Homo sapiens: one gene and its partners. The protein of the gene in region 7 purifies or fractionates together with the protein of the main gene of each other region. This does not show direct contact. Each region holds a gene or a part of one and is shown on either strand. Other genes may lie near its edges.

What was found.
Region 1: the proteins of P4HA2 (region 7) and ZNF865 purify together in Homo sapiens (affinity purification with mass spectrometry; one large-scale study listed by BioGRID and IntAct). This does not show direct contact.
Region 2: the proteins of P4HA2 (region 7) and VWA5B2 purify together in Homo sapiens (co-immunoprecipitation; one large-scale study listed by IntAct). This does not show direct contact.
Region 3: the proteins of P4HA2 (region 7) and SIPA1L1 purify together in Homo sapiens (co-immunoprecipitation; one large-scale study listed by IntAct). This does not show direct contact.
Region 4: the proteins of P4HA2 (region 7) and BZW2 fractionate together in Homo sapiens (co-fractionation; one large-scale study listed by BioGRID). This does not show direct contact.
Region 5: the proteins of P4HA2 (region 7) and TTC28 purify together in Homo sapiens (affinity purification with mass spectrometry; 2 studies listed by BioGRID and IntAct, with this or other methods). This does not show direct contact.
Region 6: the proteins of P4HA2 (region 7) and COL12A1 purify together in Homo sapiens (co-immunoprecipitation; 2 studies listed by BioGRID and IntAct, with this or other methods). This does not show direct contact.

Annotation. Positions count from the first base shown.
Region 1 is NC_000019.10:55,611,610-55,616,289, forward strand, and holds part of ZNF865 (zinc finger protein 865), read left to right. Parts: intron 1-1,983; 5' UTR 1,984-2,009; coding exon 2,010-4,680. UniProt on the Homo sapiens protein: May be involved in transcriptional regulation.
Region 2 is NC_000003.12:184,232,579-184,237,258, reverse strand, and holds part of VWA5B2 (von Willebrand factor A domain-containing protein 5B2), read right to left. Parts: intron 4,082-4,680; coding exon 3,862-4,081; coding exon of another isoform or gene 3,850-3,861; exon of another isoform or gene 3,805-3,849; intron 3,684-3,804; coding exon 3,526-3,683; intron 2,994-3,525; coding exon 2,862-2,993; intron 2,629-2,861; coding exon 2,504-2,628; intron 2,107-2,503; coding exon 1,951-2,106; intron 1,108-1,950; coding exon 997-1,107; intron 917-996; coding exon 708-916; intron 622-707; coding exon 510-621; intron 34-509; coding exon 1-33.
Region 3 is NC_000014.9:71,738,505-71,742,301, reverse strand, and holds the end of SIPA1L1 (signal-induced proliferation-associated 1-like protein 1), read right to left. Parts: intron 3,285-3,797; coding exon 3,141-3,284; 3' UTR 1,093-3,140; downstream 1-1,092.
Region 4 is NC_000007.14:16,701,142-16,705,821, reverse strand, and holds part of BZW2 (eIF5-mimic protein 1), read right to left. Parts: intron 1,276-4,680; coding exon 1,153-1,275; intron 1-1,152. UniProt on the Homo sapiens protein: Translation initiation regulator which represses non-AUG initiated translation and repeat-associated non-AUG (RAN) initiated translation by acting as a competitive inhibitor of eukaryotic translation initiation factor 5 (EIF5) function.
Region 5 is NC_000022.11:28,673,341-28,676,840, forward strand, and holds part of TTC28 (tetratricopeptide repeat protein 28), read right to left. Parts: intron 1-3,500. UniProt on the Homo sapiens protein: During mitosis, may be involved in the condensation of spindle midzone microtubules, leading to the formation of midbody.
Region 6 is NC_000006.12:75,203,254-75,207,512, forward strand, and holds the start of COL12A1 (collagen alpha-1(XII) chain long), read right to left. Parts: upstream 2,801-4,259; 5' UTR 2,524-2,800; intron 2,087-2,523; exon of another isoform or gene 1,760-2,086; intron 1-1,759. UniProt on the Homo sapiens protein: Type XII collagen interacts with type I collagen-containing fibrils, the COL1 domain could be associated with the surface of the fibrils, and the COL2 and NC3 domains may be localized in the perifibrillar matrix.
Region 7 is NC_000005.10:132,206,643-132,211,322, forward strand, and holds part of P4HA2 (prolyl 4-hydroxylase subunit alpha-2 isoform 2 precursor), read right to left. Parts: intron 3,882-4,680; coding exon 3,642-3,881; intron 2,690-3,641; coding exon 2,496-2,689; intron 1,243-2,495; coding exon 1,066-1,242; intron 1-1,065. UniProt on the Homo sapiens protein: Catalyzes the post-translational formation of 4-hydroxyproline in -Xaa-Pro-Gly- sequences in collagens and other proteins.

The DNA of each region.
Region 1 (4,680 bases), on a different chromosome or scaffold from region 7:
GTTTGGGGTGGGGGTGGAAGAGACACTCACCCCTCACCTGTGGGAGGAGAGAGCAGCCCGATGGATAGAGGATAAAGGGTCCAGGCCTTGGTAGGAACCCCCTTGACCCCCATAGCGGGCTGGGCTTAGAGCCTGGCCCCCATCGGGTAGGGATGATGGACAGGAAGCGGGTCAGACCTCATGGGCCCTTCACCGACTCACCCTCCGCCCACTTGGTGGAGGTGCTTCCCCAGGCCAGCAAGTAGACCAAGAACTCGGAGATCAGTTACGGGTGCTGAGGGTCTGGTGTGGTGTGGGGTACACACATGGATACCTGCCATCTGGAATGAAAAGTCGTGTAAAGGAGGTGCCAGAGAATGATGCCGGGGGTGGAGGGTCAGGAGAAGCCCCACTAAGGGCAAGGACATGGGGGGGTCAGGAGAAGCCCCACTAAGGGCAAGGATGGAACTCAAGCTCCCTGCTTCTGTTGCTAGGCTTAGCCCAGGTGTGTGATGTCATGGATGGTACAAATAGCTCAGGGGGTTGAATGCATTCTGCTGATGCATGTGTTTCATTATGTTCTGTTCCAACCCTGTTGAATCTCCCTGCGGTATAGGGGTTCCCCCATTTTAAACATGGAGAAAGTGTGGATCCCAGTGGAGATGGGATTTGAACCCAGGTCTGTCCAAGCCCAGGGTCTGTGTTTTGATTGTATCAGACCACCTTCTGACTATATGCCAGCCCCCTTGCTGGAATTTGTTTCTCCCAGGCAAGCAAATTCTCCTTTCTACTGTCTATTAATATTAAAAGAGTGCACTCCCCATACTGACTTTTTTCAGTTCTCTAGGCTTGTCCTGACTTCCCCATTTCTACTACTAGTAGTAACAGTGATAACAGTATCGTATCTTCAATTTTTTAATTTTAGTTTTTAGAGCCAAGGTCTTGCTCTGTCACCCAGGCTGGAGTACAGTGATGTGATCACAGCTCATTGTAGCCTTCACCTCCCGGGCTCAAGCAGCTCTCCTGCCTCAGCCTCCCAAAGTGCTGGGATGACAGCTGTCAGCCACTGTGCCCAGTCCATACCTTCTATGTACGGAGTGCTTACAGAGTGCCAGGAACCGCCCCCTAAGAGCCTTGCACATATGTGTGTGTTGAATCCTCACAGTCCTGTGAGGTAGGCATGTGCTTTGTGGTCCCCAGGTGTAGATGAGGAAATGGAGGCACAGAGAGGTTCAGTCACTTGCCCGTGGCCACACAGCTAGAAGTGGCAGGGCTTACATTTGATTCTGGCCCCAGAGTCCTCCCTCCTAATTACGCTGATAGAAACTGTGATTCCCCTTATCATTATGCTCATTTTAGGATAAAACCTGAAGGGATGAGGACGGAGGGCTGTGGGTGGGGTAGGGTGCAGGAGTATGGAGAGACAGCAGAGGGTCTGAGAGGGTTTGGAAAGAAAACTGAGTCCAGAGGCCCCCAGGATGCTTGGACAATTGGAGTCTGAAAAGGAGAGAAAGTAGAGACGGCCCAGGCCAGCGCGCTGGCTCACATCTGTAATCACCCAGCACTTTGGGAGGTGGAGGCTGGAGGATGGCGTGAGTCCAGGAGTTTCAGACCAGCCTGGGCAACAAAGCAAAACCCCGTTTCTACAAATAATAGAGGGCCTGCAGGTGGTGTGGAGGAGAGGGTCCCCTCTACAAAGCTGTGTCAGGACCCCAGAAAAGATGGGGAGAGATGGAAGGAATTAGAGAAGGAAAAGAGGTGGGGAGTGGGTGGGAGTTGAGAACACAGAGAGGGAAGGTGAAGGTGAGTAGGAGAGTCCTGGGGCCAGGGAGCCAAGAGGAAGGGCTGCCCTTTGGGGTGGACAGGCAGAGGGACTGGAAGCCTAAATCTGGAAGGCTAGGGGGTGATCCGCACAAGGATGGATGAGTGGGCGCACAGCTCCATTCACCTGCGGGGAGACCCAGCGCCGCGGCCGTGTCCTCAGCCCCGTCCTCCTCTTCACAGGGTCTCCCGTCTCCCACCCGCCGGAGATGGAGGCGAACCCAGCGGGCAGCGGCGCCGGGGGTGGCGGGAGCAGCGGCATCGGGGGCGAGGACGGGGTGCACTTCCAGAGCTACCCCTTCGACTTCCTGGAATTCCTCAACCACCAGCGCTTCGAGCCCATGGAACTGTATGGGGAACACGCCAAGGCGGTGGCGGCCCTGCCCTGCGCCCCCGGCCCCCCGCCGCAGCCCCCGCCGCAGCCCCCTCCCCCGCAGTATGACTACCCGCCCCAGTCCACCTTCAAGCCCAAGGCGGAGGTGCCCTCCTCGTCCTCGTCCTCGTCCTCCTCCTCCTCCTCTTCGTCCTCCTCGTCGTCATCTTCGTCCTCTTCCTCTTCCCAAGCCAAGAAGCCCGATCCGCCCCTGCCGCCCGCCTTCGGGGCGCCCCCTCCTCCCCTCTTTGACGCTGCTTTCCCCACTCCGCAGTGGGGCATCGTGGACCTCTCGGGGCACCAGCACTTGTTTGGGAACCTGAAGCGAGGAGGGCCCGCGTCCGGGCCGGGGGTGACGCCTGGGCTGGGCGCTCCCGCGGGGGCCCCAGGGCCGCTTCCTGCCCCCTCGCAGACCCCGCCAGGACCCCCCGCGGCGGCGGCCTGCGACCCCACCAAGGACGACAAGGGCTACTTCCGGAGACTGAAGTACCTGATGGAGCGGCGCTTCCCCTGCGGCGTGTGCCAGAAGTCCTTCAAGCAGTCCTCGCACCTGGTCCAGCACATGCTGGTGCACTCGGGGGAGAGGCCCTACGAATGCGGCGTCTGCGGCCGCACCTACAACCACGTGTCCAGCCTCATCCGCCACCGCCGCTGCCACAAGGACGTGCCACCGGCCGCGGGGGGCCCGCCCCAGCCCGGCCCCCACCTCCCGCCGCTGGGCCTCCCAGCACCCGCTGCCAGCGCCGCCACCGCCGCCGCCCCCTCCACGGTGTCCTCGGGCCCTCCAGCCACGCCCGTGGCGCCTGCCCCCTCCGCAGACGGGAGCGCCGCCCCTGCTGGTGTTGGGGTGCCCCCTCCTGCCACCGGGGGTGGCGATGGCCCGTTCGCCTGCCCACTCTGCTGGAAGGTTTTCAAGAAGCCCAGTCACCTCCACCAGCACCAGATCATCCACACGGGCGAGAAGCCCTTCTCCTGCTCCGTGTGCAGCAAAAGCTTCAACCGCAGGGAGAGTCTGAAGCGCCACGTGAAGACGCACTCGGCCGACCTCCTGCGCCTGCCCTGCGGCATCTGCGGGAAGGCCTTCCGCGACGCCTCCTACCTCCTCAAGCACCAGGCGGCCCACGCGGGGGCGGGCGCCGGGGGGCCTCGGCCCGTGTACCCCTGCGACCTGTGCGGCAAGTCCTACTCGGCTCCGCAGAGCCTGCTCCGCCACAAGGCCGCCCACGCCCCGCCCGCTGCCGCTGCGGAGGCGCCCAAGGACGGGGCGGCCTCGGCCCCGCAGCCCCCGCCCACCTTCCCCCCGGGCCCGTACCTCCTGCCCCCCGACCCTCCCACCACAGACAGCGAGAAGGCGGCGGCGGCCGCGGCGGCGGTGGTGTACGGCGCTGTGCCCGTCCCGCTCCTGGGCGCCCACCCGCTGCTGCTCGGCGGCGCGGGGACCAGCGGGGCGGGAGGCTCGGGCGCCAGCGTCCCAGGAAAGACGTTCTGCTGCGGCATCTGCGGGCGCGGCTTCGGGCGCCGCGAGACCCTGAAGCGCCATGAGCGCATCCACACGGGCGAGAAGCCCCACCAGTGCCCCGTGTGTGGGAAGCGCTTCCGCGAATCCTTCCACTTGAGCAAGCATCACGTGGTGCACACGCGCGAGCGGCCCTACAAGTGCGAGCTCTGCGGCAAGGTCTTCGGCTACCCGCAGAGCCTCACCCGCCACCGCCAGGTGCACCGGCTCCAGCTGCCCTGCGCCCTGGCCGGGGCAGCCGGCCTCCCCTCCACCCAAGGCACACCGGGGGCCTGTGGGCCCGGGGCCTCGGGCACGTCTGCAGGGCCCACCGATGGGCTGAGCTACGCCTGCTCGGACTGCGGCGAGCACTTCCCGGATCTCTTTCACGTCATGAGTCACAAGGAGGTCCACATGGCAGAGAAGCCATACGGCTGCGACGCCTGCGGCAAGACCTTCGGCTTCATCGAGAACCTCATGTGGCACAAGCTGGTCCACCAGGCCGCCCCCGAGCGCCTGCTCCCGCCCGCACCCGGCGGCCTGCAGCCCCCGGACGGCTCCAGCGGCACGGATGCGGCCAGCGTGCTGGACAACGGGCTGGCGGGGGAGGTGGGGGCGGCCGTGGCGGCACTGGCAGGGGTGTCTGGGGGTGAGGACGCAGGCGGGGCGGCGGTGGCAGGTGCTGGCGGGGGTGCCAGTTCCGGCCCCGAGCGCTTCAGCTGTGCCACGTGCGGCCAGAGTTTCAAGCACTTCCTGGGCCTCGTGACTCACAAGTACGTGCACCTGGTGCGACGGACCCTGGGCTGCGGCCTCTGCGGCCAGAGCTTCGCGGGCGCCTACGACTTGCTCCTACACCGCCGCAGCCATCGGCAGAAGCGGGGTTTCCGCTGCCCGGTGTGCGGGAAGCGCTTCTGGGAGGCGGCCCTGCTGATGCGCCACCAGCGCTGCCACACGGAACAGCGGCCGTACCGATGTGGCGTGTGCGGCCGAGGCTTCCTGCGCTCCTGGTACC
Region 2 (4,680 bases), on a different chromosome or scaffold from region 7:
AGGCTCCAGTGCCTTCCGCAGAGCCTGTACCAGCTGTGGGGAGTGGCCACAGGGAAGACATGGGAAGGAAAGAGGTGTCATACGGCCAGACAGAGCAGGAAGGCTGCCCTTCCCCTGATGCCATCTGCCCAGCCCCTAAGCTGATGGGGCACAGGGCCAGGCTGGGGTCAGGAGAAGGAATGAGGGTAGGAGCAAGCAGGGGGCTGAGTGCTCAGCCCTCAGGATTTGGTCTGTCTCCTGGCCTGAGCTTTGCCACATGGATGGGGCAAGACTGTGAGGACGAGGCTCCGTTCCAGGACTAAATGGGATTCAGAGGGTGGTCAGAGACAGTGTCCTGACACCTTTGGCCTTCACAGCACCAACAGCTCTTCCCCTGATTGGAGTGGGGAGAAGGCCTGGTGAGGGCGCCAGGAGCCCCCATGGCCTGCCTGAGTTCTGTTTCAGACTTGATGTGTAACTTGGGAGAAAAACTTCCAGGTGTAGGGAACAGGGCCCAGGCTCAAGCTCACCATGGGCTGCAGCCTCTGCCCAGGCCTCAGGAAGTAGGCCTGGCCTCTGCTGAGGGCAGATAAACCCTGGAGCAGCTGGTGGCAGGTGGGCCCCAGCCCAAAGGAGAAGCATCTGATGAAGGAAAGGAAGCAGCTGTGATCTTCAGGAGCCCCTTGTGGGGGCTCAGTCTTACGCATCTGGTTCTGCCCATCCCATACCTGGCTGTCCCCCTGTGCCACCTCATGAGCTCCAGGGTTCGGTGGGTAGTGGCGGCCATGGGTGAGGCAGCAGTGAGCAGGAACAGCTGCCGAGGGTAGGCCCTGTGCTGGGGCTGCCCCACGGCCCAGTCCAGAGCAGCCAGCACGTCTGGGGGCCCACTCGGAACCTGCAGGGTCTCAATGCTCTCGCAGATCAGCTGCACAGCATCCTGGAGCGAGAAGGCACAGGCTGGGACGCACTGGGCTGAAACCTCTCTGTAAGGCCCCCAGATCCCTGGACCACACTCACATCACTGCAAGGCCGGCTCTCTGGGAAGAGTGGCTGCACCAACGTCCCAAACACGGCCAGGTTGATAAGCGTCTGGGGCGGGAGGGACTTCACAGCCAAAACAATGGCATCCTGTGGAGGGCCAGGGAGGGCGGCGTGAGGCCGGCCCCATGGGCCCTGATACAGAGCAAGGGAAGCCAGATCACTGCGTTATCCAGGCTGTGATTCAAGTGAGAGGCTGTGGTAACCTGGGAGAGGCCCTGGGTGTGAGGGAAAGTGTGCCAGTGAGCCCCCAAGTGTGTGTGAGAGACTGTGTGGGACTCTGGAGGTACACATGACTGTGTGTGGGACTCTGGAGGTATACATGACTGTGTGGGACTCTGGAGGTATACATGACTGTGTGTGGGACTCTGGAGGTGTACATGACTGTGTGTGGGACTCTGGAGGTATACCTGACTGTGTGGGACTCTGGAAGTACACATGACTGTGTGTGGGACTCTGGAGGTGTACATGGCTGTGTGTGGGACTCTGGAGGTACACATGGCTGTGTGTGGGACTCTGGAGGTACACATGGCTGTGTGTGGGACTCTGGAGGTACACATGGCTGTGTGTGGGACTCTGGAGGTACACATGGCTGTGTGTGGGACTCTGGAGGTACACATGAAACTTGAGTGTCCCTGTGATTGGAGTGACTCCCTGTGACTGAGTGCGAGTCTATGTGTGAGAGGCTCTTGGAATCCTGGAGAGATGTGTGTGCGTGAATATGAGCAAGAGAGCGTGACAGTGTCTGTTTGGCGGTTGGAGCAGGGCTGCTGTCTAAGGGAATCCCCTGAGGAGTTGCCATCTGCTTCCTCTTTGGAAGATGGTGTTTGAAGCAACAAGGTAACTCCTGGCTTCAAGAGGCTGCCCCCAGCCCTCCTCAGACCCACTGCCCCACCCAACCCCCAGGCCTGCCCACACCACACCCCCACGGGCCTTGTGTGCCACGCTGCTGCTATCCAAAAGGAAGAGTAGCTCCCGAGTAGCTGTCCCCAGGTGTCCGGGCTTGGAGCTCAGGTCTGGGCAGAAGCTCAGCGCCAGCACGGGGTTCAGCAGGATGTCCTTGTGGAAGCGTCGCTGCAGGAACCACACCTGAGCGGGGGAGTCCCAAGTCAGCCTGGGCAAGGCTTAGTGCTACTTTGTTGAGGGTGGGCAGTGGGACTGGCTCTGGGGCCTTTTTCTGTCTGATCCACCCAGAGGGGACATCTTTTTGTAGTAATTCGAATAAAGGCAGGAGCAAAGGCAGGTGGCTGTCTTCTGTTTATATCAGACCTAGCCTCCATCCTCTGAGACACACCCCAGAGAGATTCACATCGGCCCTCCAATGACAATACTCATCTGTCCTCTGTGATGGTTGGTGGCAGCTGTGGAGAGATCTTACCGAGAAAAGAGGCCTCCCCGCACCCATTCCAATGTAAGCCTGCTTGCCTGCTCCTTGTGCACAAATGCAGCCAAGGCCAGGGGCCAGGCCAGGCTCCTATGGCGGTACCTGCCGGTCCCCATCACTGTCCCTTCGCTGTAGCCTCTGAAAATCTCGGCGGGCCCTCACCCGGGCCTCATATTCTGCTGAGCTCAGGCTGCCGCCCTCCAGCATCAGGTGTGGCTGATGGGGCTCTGAGAGGAGAGGACACAATTCTGTCAAGGAAGGCCCTGCCTCTGGACCCCAAGTGCCCAGTTTCACTGTCCAGGAGGAGCCTGCAGGTCCAGCCTTCCTGCACCACAGGCTCTGCCCTCACAGATGACTCAGTCCATCTGGCTGGGGCCCAGAAACCTGCACTTAAGAAATGCTTCCCCCATTCATGTAGAAGCAGGTCAGAGCCGGCCCACGGTGTGTCCCAGTCTCTCACCACTGGGGTGCAGCAGGATCTCCAAGGCCCGGTCACAGTGGTGGCCCTCTGCCAGTGTGACACAGATGGTGGCTGCAGAGCTGGCATGAGGGGGGGCATCTGCCCGCAGAGCATGAGAGGGGCTCTCCAGGCCTGAGGGACATAGAGGCAGGAAGGGGAGATGTAGCCATAACACCTTCCCAGGGACAGCAAATGTTGGCAGGGGTCATGGCTGATTCAGTCAGCTCTCAGAGTCTGATCTATATGGGGTCAGATGGACGAGGGAGGATGTGCCTGCTTTCATGGGCTGGGAAGTAGATTCCAGCAGGGTTTCTGGCTGGTCGAAGAGTCATGCATCAGCCAGGTGCTGATTTAGCATTCACCCCCCACCTTCTGTGTAAGGAAAACCTACTTCATCACAGGTACTAGTCCCATTGTAAGTATCTCTCTTCCCACTGCTGGGTGGGATGAGATATAAATAAATTACCTTGATAAAATTGGGGTGTGTGTGTTGGGTAGAGGTGACCAGGGGATGCTCCCACCACTAACCCAGATGTTCCGGAGGCTGGGGTCCCTGTCTTTTTGTCCTGTGTCCCTCCTATCCCTGAGCCTTATTTCCCTTCCAGTCACTACACTGGGTGGAGTGGGCATCTGAAAAGAGGGCAGGCCAGCCAGATGCACCCACCTGCAAGCAGGCATGGCCCAGTCACCAGCATCTCGAAGGAGAAGGTATATGGGGCAGGGCAGCGGGCAGGGCCTGAGAACACGTCCCGAGGGGCAGCCAGCTCCTCCCAGGCCAGCCCTTCCTCCTGAAGGCTGCCCACCCCGAAGCAGCTGGTGGGGCTGGAAGGGAGCATGAGGAGGGTCACTGGGCCACTGTGAAGGCCCCTAAACCCTCCGGCTGACTGGCCCCAGCCCTTCCTCACCCTTCCCATCCCTGGGTACCCTGCCAGTGCCCCCTCACCCGCACTAGACCCAGAGAAGCCGAGGGAGGGACGAAGAGAATCACCATAGGCCCAACCTGTCGTCACAGAGCCCCGGAGGCCTGGGGGGCCCCGGCGGGCCTGGCGGGGCCAGCGGGGTGAGCACAGTGGGCAGGGCCACATGCAGCACCCCGTCAGGCCTTGAGGGCAGCTCCCGGCTGCTGTGCAGGGTCACCGTCATGGTGCCAGCCGCGGCGATAATGCCTGTGGGCAGCACCAACGTGGACCGGGCCTGGGCCAGATCCAAGACAAGATGACCTATGATGGGTGAGAAATGGGGTCAGAGCATGCTGGAAGCAGAGGAGAGGGAGGAAGCTAGATGTGGAAGCAGGCATTGGGTCAGGGAGCCTGGGCAAGGGGGACTTTGCGTGTTGGCACTAGGCTAATGCATTGGTGACGCAGGATGGAGGCATGAGATGAATGATGGCAGGAGAGGCAGACTAACTGTGAACAGATCTGGCTGTCATCAGGCAAGAGCAGCAGTGACATCCTTGCTAATGGAAGGCTGAGGAGAAGGGGCCATGTCCACTCTCAAGGCCCTGGGAATACCCACACCCTCTGCCCCTCTCCCCCTGCCTGCCTCTTTCCATTCAACCCTTGGCCACCATCCCTTGTGGATAGACATCTCCCTGTGGCCTGGGACCCCACTCTGCTCATAAATTTCCTGCTCCTGAACCATCAGGAGCTCCCCCATTGCCCACTAAGGTGGCTCCAGAATTCTCTACTCCTCCCGGGCAGGAGGAATAGAGAAGCAGGAAGCAGGCTGGAGGACATAAAGCTCCATTTGCACACTGCACACACTGTTTTATTTAGCTCCTAGGTTTGTTTGGGGACTGGTGGGGCTGCTAAAGGAATAA
Region 3 (3,797 bases), on a different chromosome or scaffold from region 7:
GCCGCAGCCTCGACCTCCTGGGCTCAATCTATCCTCCCACCTCAGGCAGCTGGGACTACAGGCATGTGCCACCATGCTCAGCTAATTTTATTTTTTGCAGAGATGAGGTCTCACTATGTTGCCCAGACTAGTCTTGAACTCTTGGGCTCAGGTAATCCTCCTGACTTGGCCTCCCAAAATGTTAGGATTACAGGTGTGAGCCCTCACACCCGGCCAGTCTTCACTGGGTTTCTGACCCATGTGTGCCATCTTGCACTTTAATATCCACTTTGTTTATTGTGGGAAAACAGCACCTCACAGTTACTGAAACATCGTACTGTGAGACTGAAATCTGGGTTCAGATCATCATTTTACATTTAACTAGAGGCAAACAGTGTAAGTTTGCTGGGCCTGTTTTCTTTGCCCTTGGACTATCGTTCTTATCCCCACCTAAAGAGTTAGTAACCTAACCCAGCTTATCACCGGCACCAGATCTGGAGCGCAAGCAACTGGCCTTCCCAGTCAGCTCATGGATGAAGATCTTCCATCAATGCAGGCCCAACAGCACCTTCTCCCAGGGGCTCCCAACCCATGTGCCAAGCCCTACAGAAATAACGTATAAGCCCTCCGAACCATGTAGGAATCATGGTCTAAACAGACCTTTTTAGCTTGTTAATTGGAATATTTTGTGGCATCCATTCTTATGCTAGTCCAAGAACTCTGGAATCTGTAGAACTGTTGAACCAAATAAAAGGAAGAAACTCTACTGTCAGCACTCAATTAGCTGCGCCGCTGGAGAGGAACAGTGACGTGGTAGATTAAAAAAAAATTGGTTCGGTTTGACTTTGGAATGCACTGATTTTTTTTTCAGTAGATTAACTTTTCTAATTATATTTTGCACAGCCTAATATTAACAGGCATTTGTATTCCCTGGGCACACAACATCTGACATTGAGAGCTGGGAGATGCAGCCCAAAAATGTGCTGGTCTCAGAGAATAACAATGTTATGAAAAATCCATGCGTGGATAATGAAGGGGAAGCTAATTATGAAGTGCTCTGCAAATATTAAATCATAAGCAGAGAAGGCAAAATAGTAATTCTCTATCGACATGTGGACAGAGTAAAAAAGTTTATTAACATTCTGAGAAGGACAGAAATTTTCAAGAATCATCATTAGTGTTAACAAAGCTTGATGAAAAAATTCGGATGCAAGGAGGGTCAATGAGTTATTGGGTGGTCTTTCAAATAAGCAAACCTCAAGCAATAATACCAAAGTGTTTTAAAAGAGCGTTTAAAATGAATTTTATTCTTTGAATTTTACAGGTAGTCTTTAGAGGCTTCAAACAAGAACTCTGTTGCAAAACTCTAATAAATAGCTTGCCCCAAGTCCCCAAACAAAATGTAAAACAAAATGAGAACTAAACTCAGAAGGATAAGCAAGACTTCAGAATGCTTGGATGTTAGCAATATTTCTCATTTACAAAGAGATATCAGGCAATGTACAATCTCCTTCATACAAGTCAAAGAGAGAAAGAGACAGACAATTGAAATCTTCACAAAGCACTCCGAAATCTTCCTATTTCCATGATAGAAATGTCACCAGAAAAAAAAAATTCCATGGAGAAATCACAATCAAGAATGAAACTGTAGCATAAAAATCTGGTAGTGAATGTAGCAGGGAGAAGAGAGGAAAATCCATCCTGTTTCTTTCAGGGATGGAGAGAGGAAGGAATTGAGATTACTTGGGTGAGGGAACTTCCAATCAGATGCCGCTAGAGTGCTGAATGTTCCCTTAGACCAGAGTTGCCACTGAAAGGGCAGAGGGGTCGGTTTAGTGACAGTTATGAAGGCAACAAACAAAGGGGTCTCCTCAGGTCAGTCAACACTGGCCAGCCCCATGTCTCTGTGCTCTACAGCAGCCTTGGAAGAGTGACCCAGGGGCCCAAAGCAGCCTGCATCACAAGACAGCAAAAATAGCACATCAATAATTTCTGCAGCGGAATCCTTTGGATGGCCATGAAAGGATGCAGAAAATGCCGTGCTGAAATTTCACACTGGGACATGCAGGTTTCAAAAGCCCATTCTAGTATCACAGTCATTATTCCTAACAAGCAATGATTAAAATTCACAATTAAACATTCACTGTTAGCTTCTCCTAGTTACAAATACTGGTGAAGTCTTGCTCTGGAGAGAAAGATTAATTTAGAGATATGGTCATTTTCAGCAAGCTAAAAAAACCAGTTGTGCCACATTTTTATCTTTAAAAATCTTTAAAACGTATACTTTTGACCAAAATGCATTCAAAATGCAGACAGATAAGGTTTTAGTTTGGGGGAATTCTGAAATCAATTAATGTTTGGAGCCAGGAAGCTGTAAGAGAGATTGATTCCAATTTAGTGGGGCTCAATTAAGCCAAACAAAAAAGAGTCTTGCAGCACAAGTGGGACCATCTTCCTGGGGAAAGGGAGAAGCAGGAAATGACCTCACAATGCAGGACTGAGAAGGGGTGTGGCCTGCAGGCACTGTCAGAGCTGCTCTGGTTTACAGACTTGCTGTTAAATATTTAACTCCGGTCCTGCTGATCTCTGGAGGACAGGTACAGACAGCACTAGCTCATGCACGAGTCATTCAAGGGAGGTAGGCATTTTCTCAAAGCAACTCCCTCTCCAGGCATTTTAGGGAAGAAGGTAAGGAAATATCCCTCTCTACTCCCCAAACAAGTTATAAAAACATTCTTTTTCTAGGAATAATGATATTTGTTAGAATAACAAGGGAAAGCTTGGGTTACCTGAAGTTGATAAGAAAGCTGATGGGAATAGAGGCGGATGGGCCAGGGGGCGCCCTGGTCCAAGGCCCAGTTTCTTCTTAAATACATAACAGATAAAGATATTGTGCAAAAAAATAAAGACATTCACATTTTAGCAGTTAAACTTTTATTTTACTGTTTAAAATTTTTATTTACTTTTTTTGTTTTTCTTTTCTACAAAAGGCAGGTGATGATTGTTGATCTGCAACTATTGTGTTGTGCACTCCCCGAAAGGGGGCAGAGTAGGAAGCCAGGGAAGGTGCTCTGAGGATGCTTTCTATGGAGGGAATAAGGGCTGCAGGACACTCACTGGAGGGAGTGTCTGGGCCCTTCTCCTGTCCTCCTCAGCCTTCCCTAGCTCATGTCTATGGTGTTGAAGACCCATTCTGTGAACTTCTTCAGCTTGTCCGAGGCGTTCTGGGACTCCTCCTGTAGCCTCAGGTTGTCCTCTCGCAGGTGCTGCACCTCCGCCTGAAGGTGAGCTTTGTCTTCTTTTTCCTGGGAGGCAGAGTGAAGTAGAAAAGCTAAGAGGTGTTGGCCCCACCTTGCCCAGCTCTTCTGAGTAATAGCTATGGACCCGTTTTGATCTTTTGTCCATTTCTATTCTTCGTTCCTCCAAACACCTGTCTAAACGGACTGGTATCAGGTGCTAAGACACTCTAAGCTCAGGGAGCAGGGCTTCTAGAGAGATTCAACCCTGCAGGATTAGCTCTAAGTAATCCTGGAATGTAAGTACATTAATGTGTATTTTAACATCCTTGTTAGTCAGGATTGTCTTAAATTTTAGACAATTGTGTTGGTGGCTGATGTCTTGATATATAGTCAAGGCCACCCAAAAAACAAAACATTCAGTTCTTTTGGTGCAAAAGCCCCAATAACACCGACTACATGGGGGTCTGGGCTACTGACACATTACACAAGGAGTGGGGAGGCCGGGAGAGGACCCAGATGGTGCTGGCTGAGGTTCACAGCCTTTCACAAATTATTGAACAGTTTTTCTGTACACCGGAC
Region 4 (4,680 bases), on a different chromosome or scaffold from region 7:
ATGAATACATTTTATATATATTAAATTTATACATATAAATTATATAAAAATTTGAATATATATAAAATTAAACAATATAACTTTTCTTCTTTGGATCACCTAAGATAAACTTTTTATTCTTTTTTTTTTTTTTTTTTGAGATGGAGTCTCACTCTGTTGCCCAGCCTGGAGTGCAGTGCTGTGATCTTGGCTCACTGCAACCTCCGCCTCCTGTGTTCATGCCATTCTCCTGCCTCAGCCTCCCGAGTAGCTGTGACTACAGGTGCCCACCACCATGCCCGGCTAATTTTTTATATTTTTAGTAGAGACACGGTTTCACTGTGTTAGGCAAGATGGTCTCGATCTCCCGACCTCATGATCTGCCCGCCTTGGCCTCCCAAAGTGCTGGGATTACAGGCGTGAGCCACCGTGCCTGGCCTGAACTTTTTATTCTTAATTGAATTCACTTTATTTATTTATTTATCGAGATGGAGTCTTGCTCTGTCATCCAGGCTGGCGTGCAGTGGCGCAATCTTGGCTCACTGCAACCTCTGCCTCCTGGTTCAAGTGGTTCTCCTGCCTCACCCTCCCGAGTACCTGGGACTACAGGCGTGAGCCACCATACCTGGCTAATTTTTTTGTGTTTTTAATAGAGACAGGGTTTCACTATGTTGGCCAGCCTGCTCTCAAACTCCTGACCTCAGGTGATCCACCCACCTCTGCTTCCCAAAGTGCTGGGATTACAGGTGTGAGCCACCACACCTGGCCTGAATTCACTCTTACTCATTATTATCCTTCCACTTTATATTTCCATTATTTAAAATTGCCAGTTAATTGGTAAAGGTGTCATAAAAATCTATAGAATTCCATAATGCGTGATTAAGCTAAATGTATTTTTCTCCTTTCACATCTACTAATCATTTCTTCCTTATTGTCCTCCATCAGAGTGGATAATTTAAGCATTTCATTTCTTTCTTTGTTTTTACATGTAGAGATTTTTATTGCCGTGATTTCAGAAAGGAAAGCTAAGATGTTGGCAAAATGTTTGATACGAAAGATAACTCTAGAATTTTAGTTTTAGAAAATCAAGTAAAATCTGTGGAAGAGGTAAATATTTTGACATATAATGAGACAGTGTTTAAAGGTCATCAATGTTTGTAAACAGAATCATACCTTCTTCTGCATTTTGTAACCACTCAACAAATTTCTTCATCTGGTCAAGAAAAACACTTTTGCCTTTAGCAACATGTGCTTCCTTATACCATTTCAGTATTGCTTCTTCGCTCAGAACATCAGCTGCAATTTTAAATCAAAGATTTCAAAGTTACTATACAAATGTCATGTTTCAAAACAACTTCATGTATTACAGTTTAATAGAAAGCAATCATTTTAAATATAAAGCATTCTGTTACTTATCAGAAGAGAGGAACCAAGTTGATTTTCATGTAGCATAGTGCCATATTTTGATAGCTTACTAAAGGCTTAAGTACTGATGATGATGATATACATCTTCTTAGGCATGATATAATGCAAGCCTATAGCTCACTACTAGGACTTGGAAATCTCTCACAGTGCTAATTTGCTGGTAGGAAATAGAATTGTTTTGTAATTTTGCAAATGAACCAGCAATTCCAGCATTTTAGAACATTTTGGGTCCTGCCAAGTTCAACCATATCTTGATTAAAGAGTAACCTCAAATGACCAGTGTCTTTTAAGGAGATTGGGATTTTCTTTTTTTAGGAGAAAAATGACAAAGGAAAAAAATGTAGATAGTATGCAATAATGATGTTAGCAATTAGATATAAAGAGGAACTTCTGGGCTATGTTGTGGGAGTAATACACACCTAAACTGAAGTTCTACACTTTCTCCATCACTAAATCACGACTTATTTTCCCACAGTATATCCCAAATTACAAGAGTAATATTTTTCCTCTACTACATTAAGACAAAATAGACATATTAGCTAATTTCCTACAGGTTTCTAAAAACAACAAAAAATGTTAACTATCTTTTGTCTAAAACTCTAAATTCCACAAATGTGCCTTGATATTCTCAACATAACATTAATTGAGAGTATTTAATGTTAAGAATAGGAAGGAGAATATAAAAATAAGTGTACATAGTCTCCCAATGTTCTAATGGGTTGTTCTAACATTCTTCTAATGTTCCAATGTTCTAATGGGTTGTTGTTTGGGAATCTGTAGTGGGAAACGAGACAGAAAACAGGTACAAAGCATTTATTATTGTCCCCGAGATGTGCTCAATTCATTACAAATACTGATAAAGCCATATAATGTTAATAAATTACTTTAATGATATCTTTTCAGTTAAAATATAATTTCAACTTATGAAAATGACAGAAACAATTTAATATTGTTTTCATTTAAAACATCACTGGTAGTTTCATAACAAAAACATTGGCTTTTTTTATTTTTAAAGAATTATTGGCTCTTGGAAAATGTTCTTGAATTAAATTGAAGAGGCTGAGCTGACTAAAATGAACATGATTTGTTTATGAAAATAAAAGGTTTTTTAAAAAAACATGTTTATTATCATCACTAAAAACATTACATTTTGCAAAGGAAGCAAGAAGTCTGGATTTACTTATAGAGCCTGGATGTAAGAGCTACAATCAGGGGTCCTGTAGACTTATTCTTAGCTTCTAGTTATTTTAGCTCTTTGTTTCCAGCTCTCCACTGAGATAAAAGAAATTTCTACCAGCCATCAGAGCCTAATTGTCATAGAGCTGAGGAGCAGGCAGTTGTGTCCCGAGGAAGTGACCTGTTATTGTGTAAGACTGCCTTGCAGAGACTTTTAAAGAACATTAACAGGGATTTTAAAAGACCCTTTTATATAACTTGTAAATTATCTTTAAGATGCTTATGATTAGATCAGTAATTATCAAACTGTTTGGATCATGTCTTCCTGCCTGTAGGATAATTTTGAGCATATACACCCAACATATGTATATTTTTGAGTTTATAAATTATATTCATGCACTATTAAACTATCATTATTAATGTTCTGCACAAACAATATAATTTTAAACTGTGACAAACATGGAAAGGAGAATTGTTTTTTTTCTCCACACCTTAATGAATTGAGGATGATACAAAGTACAGGTTGGAAAGCTGATGTAGACTGCAGTTTAGTGATACTATTTGTCTGAGCTTTCCTTTTGAAGGTTGAGAGCACATTCCTGTGTTTTATTGCCTCACAGAGGCTGAAGGAGACCATGCAACTACTAAAATGCTTGTCAATGTCAGTGCTTGTGAAAAGCACACTAAATGATAGGTAAAACCTATCAAATGCATTGTTTATTGCAAATCTTGTGCCTTGATATTCTTAAGTTACCATTAATTGAGAATATTTAATGTTAAGAATAGGAAGGAGAATTTAAAATAAGTCTACATATTAACGGCGCAATGTGGAGTTCTTAGAAGAACCCAGGGTAGTAACAACTACTTGCTGAAAGATCAAACTTCTAGTACCAGAGAATTATTAATTAAAAGCTACTGAAGTATCTACACAGAGCACCATATGAGGCAAAGTATGAACATCGAAGAGTTTAAGAAGAAATTAAACTTCTATTTAGTGAAAGGAAAGGTCTGAAAAGGAAGGAACTCCTTGAGGGACAAAGAATTCAGACAATTTTTTCCCTCACTAAGGATAAAGTAGGGAAAAGAGTTAATTAAAACTGAGAAACCATTTTTGGTGGGATATTTCATAAATGCCTATTAGGAATATAGAATAACAGTAAAAGACAGTAAGAAAGGAAGACATTGTATGATGGCACATAGAGACTGGAATATATGTTTTCCCCTTCTATCTGGCCAACTTCTTCATAATGTCTGGTGAGATACATGTACCTTGAGAGCCTTCACTTCTCCCCCTCCAAATTACCTTTAACAAGTTAGGTGCCCTCCCTCTGTGGTCCTATCCCTTCTGACACCCTCTGTGTGAGGCTTATTTCAGCAATTGACATGGTGAGTGTAATTCTTTGTTTTCTTCTACATCCTGAAATTCAGGAAGTCAGGGACTATATTTTGTTCATCTCATTTCCAGCATTTAATGAAAGACCTGCCCTATAGTATCGATTCAACACACGTTTAAGGAATAAATTTGTTAACTTGATGAGAAAAAATAAATATTTCTCAATTTGTAGAGTTCTAATGTATTCATGAGGATCGAAGAGACAATACTGTAAAAGTGGCTTGAGAACTGCTAAATTTTAGATCATGTTAGTTATTTAGAAACTTAGTCTGAAACTATGTCACTTGAAACTCTTGAAATTCAGAAATTTTTTTATTAGGAATGTCACATAGGGACACAAGTCAAAAATAATTTACCCTAAGAATGCTGGGAATATATGCTGAGAAGGGCACTCACCCTTTTTTAGAACTAGAATAAAAAACTCCTTTTAGAAAAATTTGCATGCAGGATAGAATTTAACCTAAAAAATTTCTGCAAACAAGAAAACCCATGATAGAGATAATAACAGTACTTGACAAGGTAGTTTTACACATTTTAGACCATGCTGAGTCTATGGGACTTATCTTCAGGGAAAAAAGAAGAGAAAATTATTTTTAAAAGTCAATAATGTGATGCTTGAAAGTTAGCAATGGATTTACTGTTTCTTACTACCTTAAAAATATGCAAATCTAGATTTTAATACAGAGAGTCTTTGCAAAATGACCCAT
Region 5 (3,500 bases), on a different chromosome or scaffold from region 7:
TCCAGCCTGGGCGACAGAGACTCCGTCTCAAAAAAAAAAGTTAACTGCGAATGTTAAATAAGAGAATGCATTATTATTGTATGTAGCTTCCCCCCCTTACCTGGTACGTACTTGGCATTTCTATGCCATAATGGAAGTCAAAAATCACCATGATATTGTTTCAACATACTATGGACGTAGTTCAGAAAATGTTAGGACAAATTTGATATCAACATTCTTTGCACTCACAGAATTGCATAAAGAGTATCACTTTGGTAAAGATGAAAATTACTAAGATTATTGTCCTCTAATGTCAATCATCATAAAATGAATATCAAATTAGCATTGATACTTATATTTTGCTAAAACATGCCTATAGAAAACTGGTTAGTGTTTGTTTTTGGAAGACTATAGATAATACAGTGTGAATATACAAGAAACATGAGATGTTCCAAGCATCATATTTGTATCATACTATGTCTCTAGTTTCTCTTCTTAGAAAATAACAATGCACCCAGCTGCTGAAGAGACACCAAAATAAATGTTCTACCAAGTTTAAGTTCAAACATCAGGCTTCCCGCTAACAGTTTTTAAAATAGCAATAATTTAAAGGAAGAAAGATTGTAACCATGAAATTTAATGAAAAAATATTGTTTCTGCTTTCAGGAAAAAAAGTAGTGAAAAAACAGCACACAAAACAAGAATCATAGAGTAAAAATAAAGAGCTTTCAATTATACTTTTATTATTTTTAATATTTAAAATTCACTGTCAAATATTCTATATAGCAACCTTGATTTCACATGCATTTGCAATACAACTATGTGGTATGAGAGACTTGTCTTCTTTAGTGGTTCCTCAAGCGCTCACAGGGATTTCTTGGGTCGTAGAAAGGTGATGGGGACAGGAAGAGGCTTGGGGTTTCTGTTTGTGGTTTTTTCTTTGTGGTTTTTTTTTTTTTTTTTTTTGGTCTGTGGTTTTGGAGTTTTTGTTTTTCTTGGTTTTTGATTGGGTTTGTCTGTTTTTTGTTTTGTGGCTCACTTTTAACTGGAATTAATTAGCAGAAGAAGATAAAAAACAAATATCAAATCCCTACCACAGGCAAGGCATTGTTCTAAATATATACCTACATCCTCTTTTATTTAACAATTCTTTGGAATGGATATTACTATGCAATTATACATATGAGAACCATAAGATGCGTAAGAGTTAAGACCTGTTGGCTGGAGCAGTGGCTCAAGCCTGTAATTCCAGCACTTTGGGAGGTTGAGGCGGGTGGATCACTTGAGGTCAGGAGTTCAAGACCAGCCTGGCCAACACGGTGAAACCATGTCTCTACTAAAAATACAAAATTAGCTGGGCATAGTGGTGCACATCTGTAATCCCAACTACTTGGGAGGCTGAGGCAGGAGGATCACTTGAACCCAGGAGGCAGAGGTTACAGTGAGCCAAGATCACACCACTGCACTCCAGCCTGGGCGATGGCGAGACTCTGTCTCCAAAAAAAAAAAAAAAAAAAGGTAAAACATGATCATTGTAAAAATCCCAGCTGTCTTTTTTACAGAAATTGATAAGCTGATCCTAAAATCCATTTGGAAATATAAGGGACCCAAAATAGCCAGTCTTGAAAAAGAACACAGTTAAAGGACTTACACTTAATTTCAAAACCTATTACCAAGCTACAGTAATGAAACAGTGTAGTACTGGCATAAAGACAGAAAGAAATACACATCAAGAGAACAGAACTTAAGAGTCCAGAAATAAAACCTTATATATGTTCAAGTGATTCTCAAAAAAGATGTGAAGACCATCAATAAAGGAAAGGACACTCTTTTCAATATATAGTGCTGGGATAACTTTTTGTATCTATATACAAAATAATAAATTTGGACCACATACCACACACACCTCACACCACACACAAAAATTAAAACAAAATGGATCAACAACCTAAATATAAGGGCTAAAAGCATACAACTCTTAGAAGAAAACATAGGGGTAAATCATAGGGCTAAATCTTCATGACCTTAGATTTGGCAATGGCTTCTTAGACATGAAACCAAAATCATGAGCAACAAAGAAAAAACAGATAAGCTAGACTTCCTCAAAATTAAAAACTTTTTTGGCATCAGAGGACATTATCAAAAGAGTAAACCGGGTGTGGTGGCTCACACCAGTAATCCTAGCACTTTGGGAGGCAGAGGCTGGTGGACCACTTGAGCCCAGGAGTTCCAGACCAGCCTGGGCAACACGGCAAAACTCCATCTCTACAGAAAATACAAAAATTAACCGTGCCTGTAGTCCTACCTGCTCAGGAGGCTCAGGTGGGAGGATCAACTGAGCCCAGGGAGGTCCAGGCTGCAGTGAGCTGTGATCCTACCACTGTACTCCAGCCTGGGCGACAGAGTGAAACCCTGTCACACACACACACACACACACACACACACACACACACACAATGTAAAAAGAGGCATGAGCCTCTTTTATAGCTGCAGTGGCTCACATCTGTAATCCCAACACTTTCTGGGAGGCTGAGGTGAGAGGATCTCTTGAGGCCAGGAGTTCAAGATCAGCCTGGGCAACATAGCGAGACCCCTTATCTACAAAAAATTTTTAAATATTTGCCAGGTGTGGTGGCACGTGCCTGTAGTCTTAAACAATTATCATATGACCCAGATAGTCTATTCCTTAGGTATATACCCAAGGGAAATGAAAATATACATCCACACTAAAATTTGTACACAAATGTTCATAGCAGCATTATTCATAATAGCCGAAAATTGGAAAAAAAAACTCACGTGCCTATCAACAGAGGAACTGATAAAATATGGTATATCCATTCAAAAGATTACTCAGCATTAAAAAAGAATGAAGTGCTGATATACGCTACAGCATGGATAAACCTTGAAAACACTGTGCCACGTGAAATAAGTCAATCACAAAAGACCATATGTAGTAAGATTTCATTCTGTGAAACCTCCAGAAGAGCTAAACTCAGAGACAGAAAGTAGGCTAGTTATTGCCAGGGACTAGGGGAAAAGGCAATAAGGATGACTGCTAATGGGTATGGGATTTCTTGTGGACTGATGAAAATGGTCTGAAAGTATCTAGATACCTGTCTTGTTTGTGTGATTCTGTGAACATATTATAAACCACAAAATTCTGCACTCAAGGGGATTTCATGGTAGGTGAATTTATCTCATTTATCTTTATCTCAATAAAGCTTTTTAAAGACACTTTAAAAAGACATATCTGTATAAGCTACAAAAATAACACACTGAGAGACTAAAATGCCTAATTTTTCCATTTTTCTTCTTCAGCGCAATCTCAAGTCCAAAAGTCTTTCCTTCCTATATATGCATATTTTGTCCAGTGAAACAAGAAACTCTATTTTTTTATTAGAAATAAAAAAAAAAAAAAGCCAGGTGTGGTGGCTCACAGTTGTGCTTCCAGCTACTCAGAAGGCTGAGGCAGAAGGATCACTTGAGGTCAAGACTGGGAGTTCAAGACTAGCTGAGGCAAC
Region 6 (4,259 bases), on a different chromosome or scaffold from region 7:
TCAGGGTAATTTGGAAAAGTATAATAAACCTTTTTAATTCTCTTTTTTCTTCATTTTGTTCTGCTTTCAAATATGCAGCTCTTTAAGATCTGAAATGGATTATACAGAAATATGTAAGGCCCAGCTGAAACCTGACCCTCCTGCTAACTGTGTTGTTTTCACATCTGATAAATCCTTTACCTGAGATGAGGGAAAAACAACTCCAAAATACATAATAACAAATAAGGCAGCAAAATGGAAGAAGCAAGACACCCTTGTCTGTTTTTCCAACGTGTTTTTAAATAAAAATTATCAATAATAATCTTTGTATTTAACTGTTTATTTAAGCTGGAAGATTATTAGTATACATACCCCAGAGGAGAATATGTTCTGTTCCGATTTTTTCTAATTTTGTAATTACATTATGAATTCCTTAAAGACAAAGAATCTTATTCATCTTTGTGGTTTCCCAGCACACAGTAGGTACTTAACCCATGTCTACAGAATGGAATCTCCTAAAATAGTCTAGGGTTCAACCCAAAGACAAAAGCTACTAGCAAGGAACTGAACTGGGAAGTTGCCAGTGGCAAAACATAAAAAGAGTTGACTCTGAAGTACATAATTTATTGTAAGCCAACAGCCTAGGCCTCAGGAAAAATGGAGGGGGATAGGAGACTGTCCTGCGTCGGAATGCAAAAATGAGCCAAAGGTCGAGGCCTCTTTGAGAAAAGAAACTGACAATCTCCAACGATGACTTTCCAAATTATTGGCACAAAGCATGAGGGCAGCTTTCCTCAGCCTGTGTGTAAATTGCATTTTAAATGTCTGATGAGCAGGCGTGCCAAATTGCCTGGAGCTCCTTTTTATGAAGCCAAGATTAAAATTTTGGCACTGCCCTAAGTATCTAAGGGGTCTAGCAATTTCTTTCTTCCTAATTAACAACTGTTTGACATTTCTAACCCTCTTCTACATCAGTGAAAAGCAAGAGGTGAGACTGGCCCATTGTTCCAATCATCTTGCCTTAACTTTGGTATAATAATTTCCAACTCAGTTGGCAGTCGTGCTCGCGAGAAGTTAAAGGCGAACAATCGACCCACCGAAAAGCTGTGCGCAGATTTTTTTTTAACAGCTGAACTCAACGAAAACCTGAGTGGTAACACTTTTGCTGGGTCTCGATCGCCACCTGTCGCTTTCCCGACTTAGCTGCAAGAATGAATCATCTCGCGCCGGGATATCGGAACGCCAGCCAGCCAAGCATCCCGTCAATATATGTTTTAAAAAAGAAAATGCTTTCTCTCCTTTTTAGCCAAAACATTCATTTGAATGCTTAGCAACACTTCATTGAGCATTCTCAGACATAAATATCTGAAAGCGGCCGCCCCTACGTGGCAGCGAGGACTCCCTCACTTCACCCTCATGAATAAAAATGAGTCCACTGGGGTGGGAGTGGGGGCTAAGTGGACTCGTCCCCTTCTGCCAACTCGCCCCCTCCCAATTCCCTGCTGGAAGAACCCAATTCCTTAACTCCCGCGTCCAGTTAAAAAGAAAATCACACACACACACACACACCGCGTGCGCGTCGCCTACCTCCTCTCCCACCCACCACGACCTTGGCATTAGCCAAAGGAGAGCTTAGCGTTTATTTCCTTTCCTGCCCTATCCTTCCCCAGCATTCACTAGAAGACTACAGAGTCCGGATCGAGAGTCTCCCTGGCCCAGAGTCCCAGGGAGCCCTGAACTGGTCACTGAAGGGCTCCCGAGGTCGCCCGCTTGGGGGTACCTGTTCCGCTCGCTGAACGAGTCCGGCGACCCACGCTTTCTGATCCCCACAAGTCTAGGATCTGAGTGGGAAACCGCCGCGGAGATCTCACAGACCCCGAATAGGGCCTCCACCAATGCACCGGGAGGGAGTCGGAGAGGGGACTTTCTCCCGGAGCTGGGAAAAGTCCGCCAAGAATGAGTACCCTAGTGCTGCCTAACCCACCATCTCGGATGCTCTGAAAGGTAGGGGAGGAAGGAGCCAGAACACTCCACTAGGAATCTGTTACGAGATGCCACACACACCCGTGCAGCCTCGACGAGCTGCAGAGCACTCAGCGGGCCCTCCAAAGAATTCCGCACCGTGCGTCACCAAAATACCTTCCCAGCGCCCCCGCCGCACGCCTGCCCTCCCCGACAAAGCCACAGCCGCGAGATAACCAGGGCCCTGCTGCCCCAGAACCCGGCGCGCCCTCCATTGAAATCGACAGCATCTACAGATGAAACTCCTCTAGAAACGGAAACACTGAACGGGATGCTTTGCGTGCACAAAACCTTGCTCAGCTCTTAAGAAAAGCAACATTCCCCTCTCCCTCAAAAACCCCAAAGAATCACCAAATCCCAGTATACAAGGCAACGCTCTAGCCCACCTACACTATTACAAGTCCAAACTGTCCTCGCCCAGGATTCTTCACCGCTCCGGGCAAGGTGCAAGCTAGACGCCGTTTCCCGAGTTGTCTCTGGGAATGATGGGGGTAGGGGAAAGGGGACAGAAACCAGGCTGACCTGAGGCGGCGGCAACAGGGAGAGGTAGCGGCGGCGACAGCGGCTTCCCGGCGTCGGAGAAGCTGGTGCTCGGTGTGGCCCCCACACGCCCCGGCGATAGGCGCTGCACTCCAGGAGCACCTGGCGGCCGCCGAGGCGTGGGCAGCTGCGGGGAAGTCCAGGAGGAGGAGGAGAATCCCAGGAGGAGAGGCGGGCGCGGCAGGAAGACTGGAGATGGCCTGAGCCTGCAGCTGCCGGCGCGCGGACGCGTCTGGGGCGGTTCGCCTTAGCCAAGTGGAAAGAGACTCCGCGCCGCGGGCTACTTAATAGAGGGCTGTTCCCAGCTCTCAGTTTACTCGGTTACGAAACGCCTGAGAAGGTGGACGGCTGCCACGGGGTGATGTATGCTCCTCCGGCGGTGAAGGAGGTCTACTTTTGGGAACGTGTGCATACTTCGAGCATTCCTTCGGCGTGAGGTGGCGATCGCCGTAGTAGCAGTGCCCCGCTGGGGGGCGGGGAGAAGGGAGGGAGCGTAGAGGGGGACAGCCGCAGCCGGGTTCCCTGCCAAGGGAAGCCGCGTACTCCGCCACTTGGGGCGGACTGGGATTTCTTTAATGAAGCTCGGGTTTCCCTATCCCTGAGATTTCTTTAATGAATTTTTCTACATTAAGAACAATGGGGAGGGGACCGACTCCCATTTTCGGAAATGCAAGGATGCGTAACCCATTCACCCCCGCTCCTGCGGATCTCCATCCTTCATCTGATATCACCACCTCCATCTTCCTCCCCCTCTGTCCTGGGTGCACTTAAAACCGATTTACAGGATTTCCATTAACTAACTGTCTGTACACGCGGCGCGCCTTCTGTCTTTTTCAATCTCCAAGCGCGATTGGAAACCCGGACAGCCGCCCGCGCGGGGCTCAGTGATGGGATGGCTTTCCCAGTCCTTTCTCACTCCCCTGGTGCTTCAGGACGGAACTGGGAGGCTTAAGTTGAGCCAAAAGAGAGGGAGAGGAAACCTATGAAACCCAGGAGTTCTCAGAATAGGAAGCCGCTCAGTAACAAGTTGCATCCACTGCAGAAACTTCTCACCCGGACCAGAGCAAAACCTGGCCCCGAGCGGAGGCTTCGGACTGAAAGCTCTGCCCTTAAAACCTCGCGGAGCCAAAGGGGCGAAGAGGAGTAAGTTTGAAACCCCAAAGCACCCCTCCACACACAGTACTGGAGAAGCCAAATAGGGGGCTGATATTCTACCAACAACGTCGCCTCTTCTTACAGCCCCCTCCATCCTGGCATCCTACCCCTTGTTCCTGGGCAGGGAGTCTGGTACTCAGGGTTGCCAGATTGTACAAGGCGCACGGGAGGAAGCTTCGAGCGCTCACACCAAGAAATCAGAAAAATGCTACTGGAGAGATTCTGATTATAACGTCTGACCTCAGTATAGGCCCTGCACCGTTTTGGCCTCTTGAAGCCCAAAGGTTACTCCTGTAACGCTGGGGGAGCGTTGAACAACAAAGGACCGGGGTGGGGCGCAAGGGAACAGAGGAGCTGCTTCTCTGGAACTAACCGCCCGCCATAGTAGAATCGGAGGGCATGTTCCCAATGTAAATCTCTCTTCCCCATTGGCTCTGACGTCTGCAAATTTGGCCTTCCCTCTCCACTAGGCGTGATAGCCTCCAAACTTGCCTTTCGACTGACAAGAACTTGTAGGGCGCTCCCCTTTCTGCACATCTCCCCACACACAGGCTGCCTCCAGC
Region 7 (4,680 bases):
ATTTTAAAACATGGCATATATACAAAACCAACAGCCAACTGCATTCTTAGCAGTAAAATACCATAGGAATTTCCAGGAAATTCAGGAATGAGACAAGGATGCCTATTCTACGTAATTATGCTCTAGAAGTTCTGGGCAATTCAATAAGGTTATAAAAACAAAGGAACTACAAGTATCAGGAGAAAATAAAATTTTCCTTATTTCCAGGTGTTAATGCTATCCAGGCAACCAAAGAGAAATCAGCTAAAAACCAAAAAAGAAATAAGTAAATTCAACCACTAGCTGCAATCTGTATGAGTTTGCTTTTTCATAGGTAAAACAGAGACAGTGACATCATTATGAGCAGCTGTTCATAACTGTGACATAACACTTAATATATATGTTAAGCACTTAGAAGTTCCTGCCACAGTTAAGAATTCAGTAAACATTAGCTCTTACTATGAAATGTATTTGTAAAATCAATAGTTTGGCATATAATAGTAAACTAATAAAATAATGTAACCAGTTAAAAATAATAATGAAGAAATAAAGTAAATTAACAGTAACAAAGAAACTACCAAGGAATAAACTTAAGAAATGTTCAAGGCTTATATGAAGAAAACTTAAAAAGATATGGAGAGACCTGTCATGCCCTTGGATGAGAAGACCCAATATTATAAAGATATACATTCTCCTCTAAGTCATTCACCTCATTTACAGTCCTAATCAGGAGCTCCACAGGACCCAGCTTCATAGCATCCTATGGAACATTTCCAAAAAACTCACCCACGCACCAGTCTCCCAACCAGGTGAACTGACACACCAGTGTAGACCTGCCCTGTTCCCAGCGTGACCTTCTATGATAGCACTTGGCTGTCCACATTGGTTACCCTGTTCTTCTTCCACTGGACCATGAACTCACAAGGTCAGGCTGAGTCTGAAGCATCTCTGTATCCCCACGGTAGGCCCATGCTAGATATGGATAAAGGGTGGCTAGATGGGCAAACCAACCACCCATAGTGCTAGGGATGAGAAAAAGGACCTTCCCCCTTCAGTGACCCGAGAAGGACCTACAGTGACACCTACTTTAGGTTTTGCGATCTCCTTGATCCTCTCGATTTCCTCATCAGACATGACATCGTAGTACCTGACGATGTGCGGGCTGTCCCACTCGTCCTCCTCTTTGAAGGGGGCAATGAGCAGCTGTGGGGCCCTGTTGCCATGGTGGTACCTACAGAAAAGCCTCTTCTGTCTACGGGGTGTCTGGAAAGCACAGAGTAACAGGCCCTGAGCTGAGTGAGTCCTAATCCTCGGTCCCAGTCTGGCTGTCTGCAGACACTGGACTCACCTCATGGCCAGCAGCTGCTCCCTCCCACCACACCACAGAAGAAAACAAAAGTCCCAGCAGGTGGGCATGCACAGTGGCTCATGCCTGTAATCCGAGAACTCTGGGGGGCCAAAGGATAGCTTGAGACCAGGAGTTTGGGACCAGCCTAGATGACATAGACCTGTCTCTAAAAAATTAGCCAGGCATGATGGTGCATACCTGTAGTCCCAGCTACTCAGGAGACTGAGGCAGGAGGATTGCTCAAGGCTGGGAGGTCAAAGCTGCAGTGAGCTATGATTATACCACTGCACACCAGCCTGGGCGACAGGGTGAGACGAAAGAAAGAAAAGAAAAGGAAAAAGAGGAAACAGGAAAAAGAGAAGAAAAAGGAAGGAAGAAAGGAAGGGAGGGAGGGAGGGGAGGAGAGAGGAGGAGAAGGGGGAGGGGAGGGGGAGGGGAGGGGGAGGGGAGGGGGGGAGGGGAGGAGAGGGGGGAATGGGGGGAGGGGAGAGGAGAGGAGAGCCCCTTCAGCTTAACTGGCATGAAATAACACCCCACAAATCATGCAATTTTTCTTCTCTCCCAAAATCACCTCACATCCTCAAGTCCCATGGCAGAAAGTAATTCCTGACCCTTTTCGTGAAGACTTGAGTAGGTCTGAAGGGCTGGGACAGGGGAGAAACCTTTCTTGGTGGAGGAGCCAGTAGAAGCCATGCAGACAGGGGCATGGAAAAGGCTCAGAGCCTGTCACACCTGGGCCTCCTCAGGAAGCACTAGGATCCCAGGGCTCTCAAAGGCTCGATACCAAGCTCTAGTACACGCTGGTGTCTTTACCACAGAGACTTACTCTCCACTTATACCATGACTTCTTTTGGGGCCTGAGGTACGTCCACCCATTGTTTTCTTCCCAACAGTGAGTGAAGCAAAAAGTGGGACATATTGGGGTAAGGAGGCGAGCTCACTGGTAACTTAGAGGAGCAACACTCTACCTGGGGCACGAGGGGAGAGAGTCTCCTTTCCTACACCTCAGAGAATATCCACATGTCAGCCTCAGGAGATGCCATGAAAAACTGGGGGATATACTGAGAAAAGTACCTACAGAATAAAGAACACCTTCCCCAAATCTGCCTGCCCAGAGCCAGAGTCCAGGTCCACAGCTTTGGCACCCTAGCCCCCTCACACATCTCACCAGTTTGACACCCTCCCCACGACAGAGGCTCTCGTAAACATCCCTCTCAGGCAGGTAGTCCACAGGCCTCTCATAGATGCCTTCTGGGGTTGCTAGCTCAGCTTCTGTCTGATTTGTTAACGTTTTTTCTCTCTCTTCCTCCAATAACTGCTCAAAGTACCGCAGATTCCCTCCAGCTCGTTCGTGGCTTGGGTCTAGAAAATGCAAGGAATGAGAAGGAAAAGGAAACCACAAACATCTGTTAGGTCATTTAGAGAAATTATTCTGTAAGGGTTTCTCTCCCAGCAGCTCACCTGCATGCTGCATTCTACCTTCCACAGCATCTAACCAGAGTACGCTGGTCGTAACTGGAAAACCAACAGAGGCCAGGTGCGGTGGCTCATACCTGCAATCCCAGCACTTTGGGAGGCCGAGGCGGGTGGATCACGTGAGGTCACGAGTTCGAGACCAGCCTGACCAACATGGTAAAACCTCATCTCTACTAAAGAAAATACAACATGGGGCATGTGCCTCTGTAATCCCAGCCACCTGGGAGGCTGAGGCAGGAAAATCTCATCAACCCGGGAGGCGGAGGTTACAGTGAGCTGAGATCGTGCCACTGCTCTCCAGGCTGGATGAGTGAGACTCTGTCTCAAAAAAAAAAAAAAAAAAAGGTAGATGAGTTTTAAAGGCACAGTGCTTTTGGCCTTCTTCAGTCCAACAGCACAAGGCACACAAAGTATCAATGCCATATGAAGTCCTACTATTAGACCTCAGGCCTCTAATAGCACCGCTACTGTTTGTCACTGTAACAATCCTAAAGTACAACCTGACTCCTGAGCTGCTCCTGATGTAGTAAAGGTTCCACCCTGTGTAGTCCTGCATGGTGACAGATACACCATAACAGAGTCCTTATTAAAAAGGCCCACAAGTGCCACAGGCCTGAGCGTATCTATCAGCGACTGCGCAAACCTAAGGCCAGGATTGAGGTGGGTAAGGAGCTAGTAAGAAGCTGGACTGGTCCTAAAGTCAGTAAGGCATTAGTCACTGGCCAAGTGACAGGGTAAACTGACTCAGTCCCAGGAGAGGGGTCAGGCAGATGCCAGCACAGTGCAGTTCCTCTGCCACTCTCCATTCCCATCTTACCTTCCCCTAGAATCTCCTTACCAAGGGAGAGCAGGCGGCGGGTGAGCTCCAGGGCACGGTGCAGATCACCCAACTGGAAGACAGCATAGCTGAGGTAGTCCAGCACCTGTGACTTGGTTGTGGTGGCCTCCTCCCCGGCATCAAGCTGCTTTAGCACCTGCTCCATCCACAACACCGTATGATAATAGTCCCCTTCATTGTAGGCCGAGCGGCCCATCCCAAAGCAGTCATCCACACTCAGCATTGCCTGGTACTTGGTTCCTACAGCAGGGGAAGTAAATTGTCAGGCTCCAAAGAGCCTCTGGATTAGGGAAAGAGATTCCCACTTCAAGGAAAGCCTGAGCCACTGGATAGGGGGCATCACCAAGCAGAACTCCATCGGACATTTAGACTGCATATCCTAAAGGGCCACTGACACAGTGAGCACAGACAGATGGCCCAGCCCTGCCCTGGACTGGGGTTCACAGCCACCTCTTAGCCTCAGATTCCCCATCTCCCAAGTGGGAAGGGGCCTTTTTAGGGGGAGCCCCAGAAACCCACCAGGAAGCATTGTTGAGGACAGTGGGAAGGTCCTGTGGACCACAGAGAAGAAGATGTCTGGTGGGCAGTTTGCCATATGAGTCTAGAGGATGGAAAAATTAGCTGAATATAAAAAACATAAATTTAGGTGGCAACCAAGCCATGGGTGAGGAAAATAGCTTGCAGGAACTCTGAGGAAAGAATGGAGAAGATGACTAAGGCCAGAGCTCCAGGGAGCACCTACCCAGAAAGAACAGACAATGAATAACCCTGAGAATGAACTAAAGATAGGAGAAACAGAGGGAGCGGGAGTGGTGTGAGAGACACCAAGGGAGGCCAAGAGCCAAGGTTGCAGTGCCAGCTTTGGCTGTTAAGTGGCAGGGACCTTGCTGAGTATCAGTTCAGTGGGTCTTATGACCAAAGGTCATCTGCTGTAGAGGGAGTGCTGGAAAGTGACCATGAAGATAGTTTCAAGCCAATATGAAGAAGCAGCTATAGGGAGATGCAGGATTTAGGGTGAGCTCAAGATGGGAAAGACTAT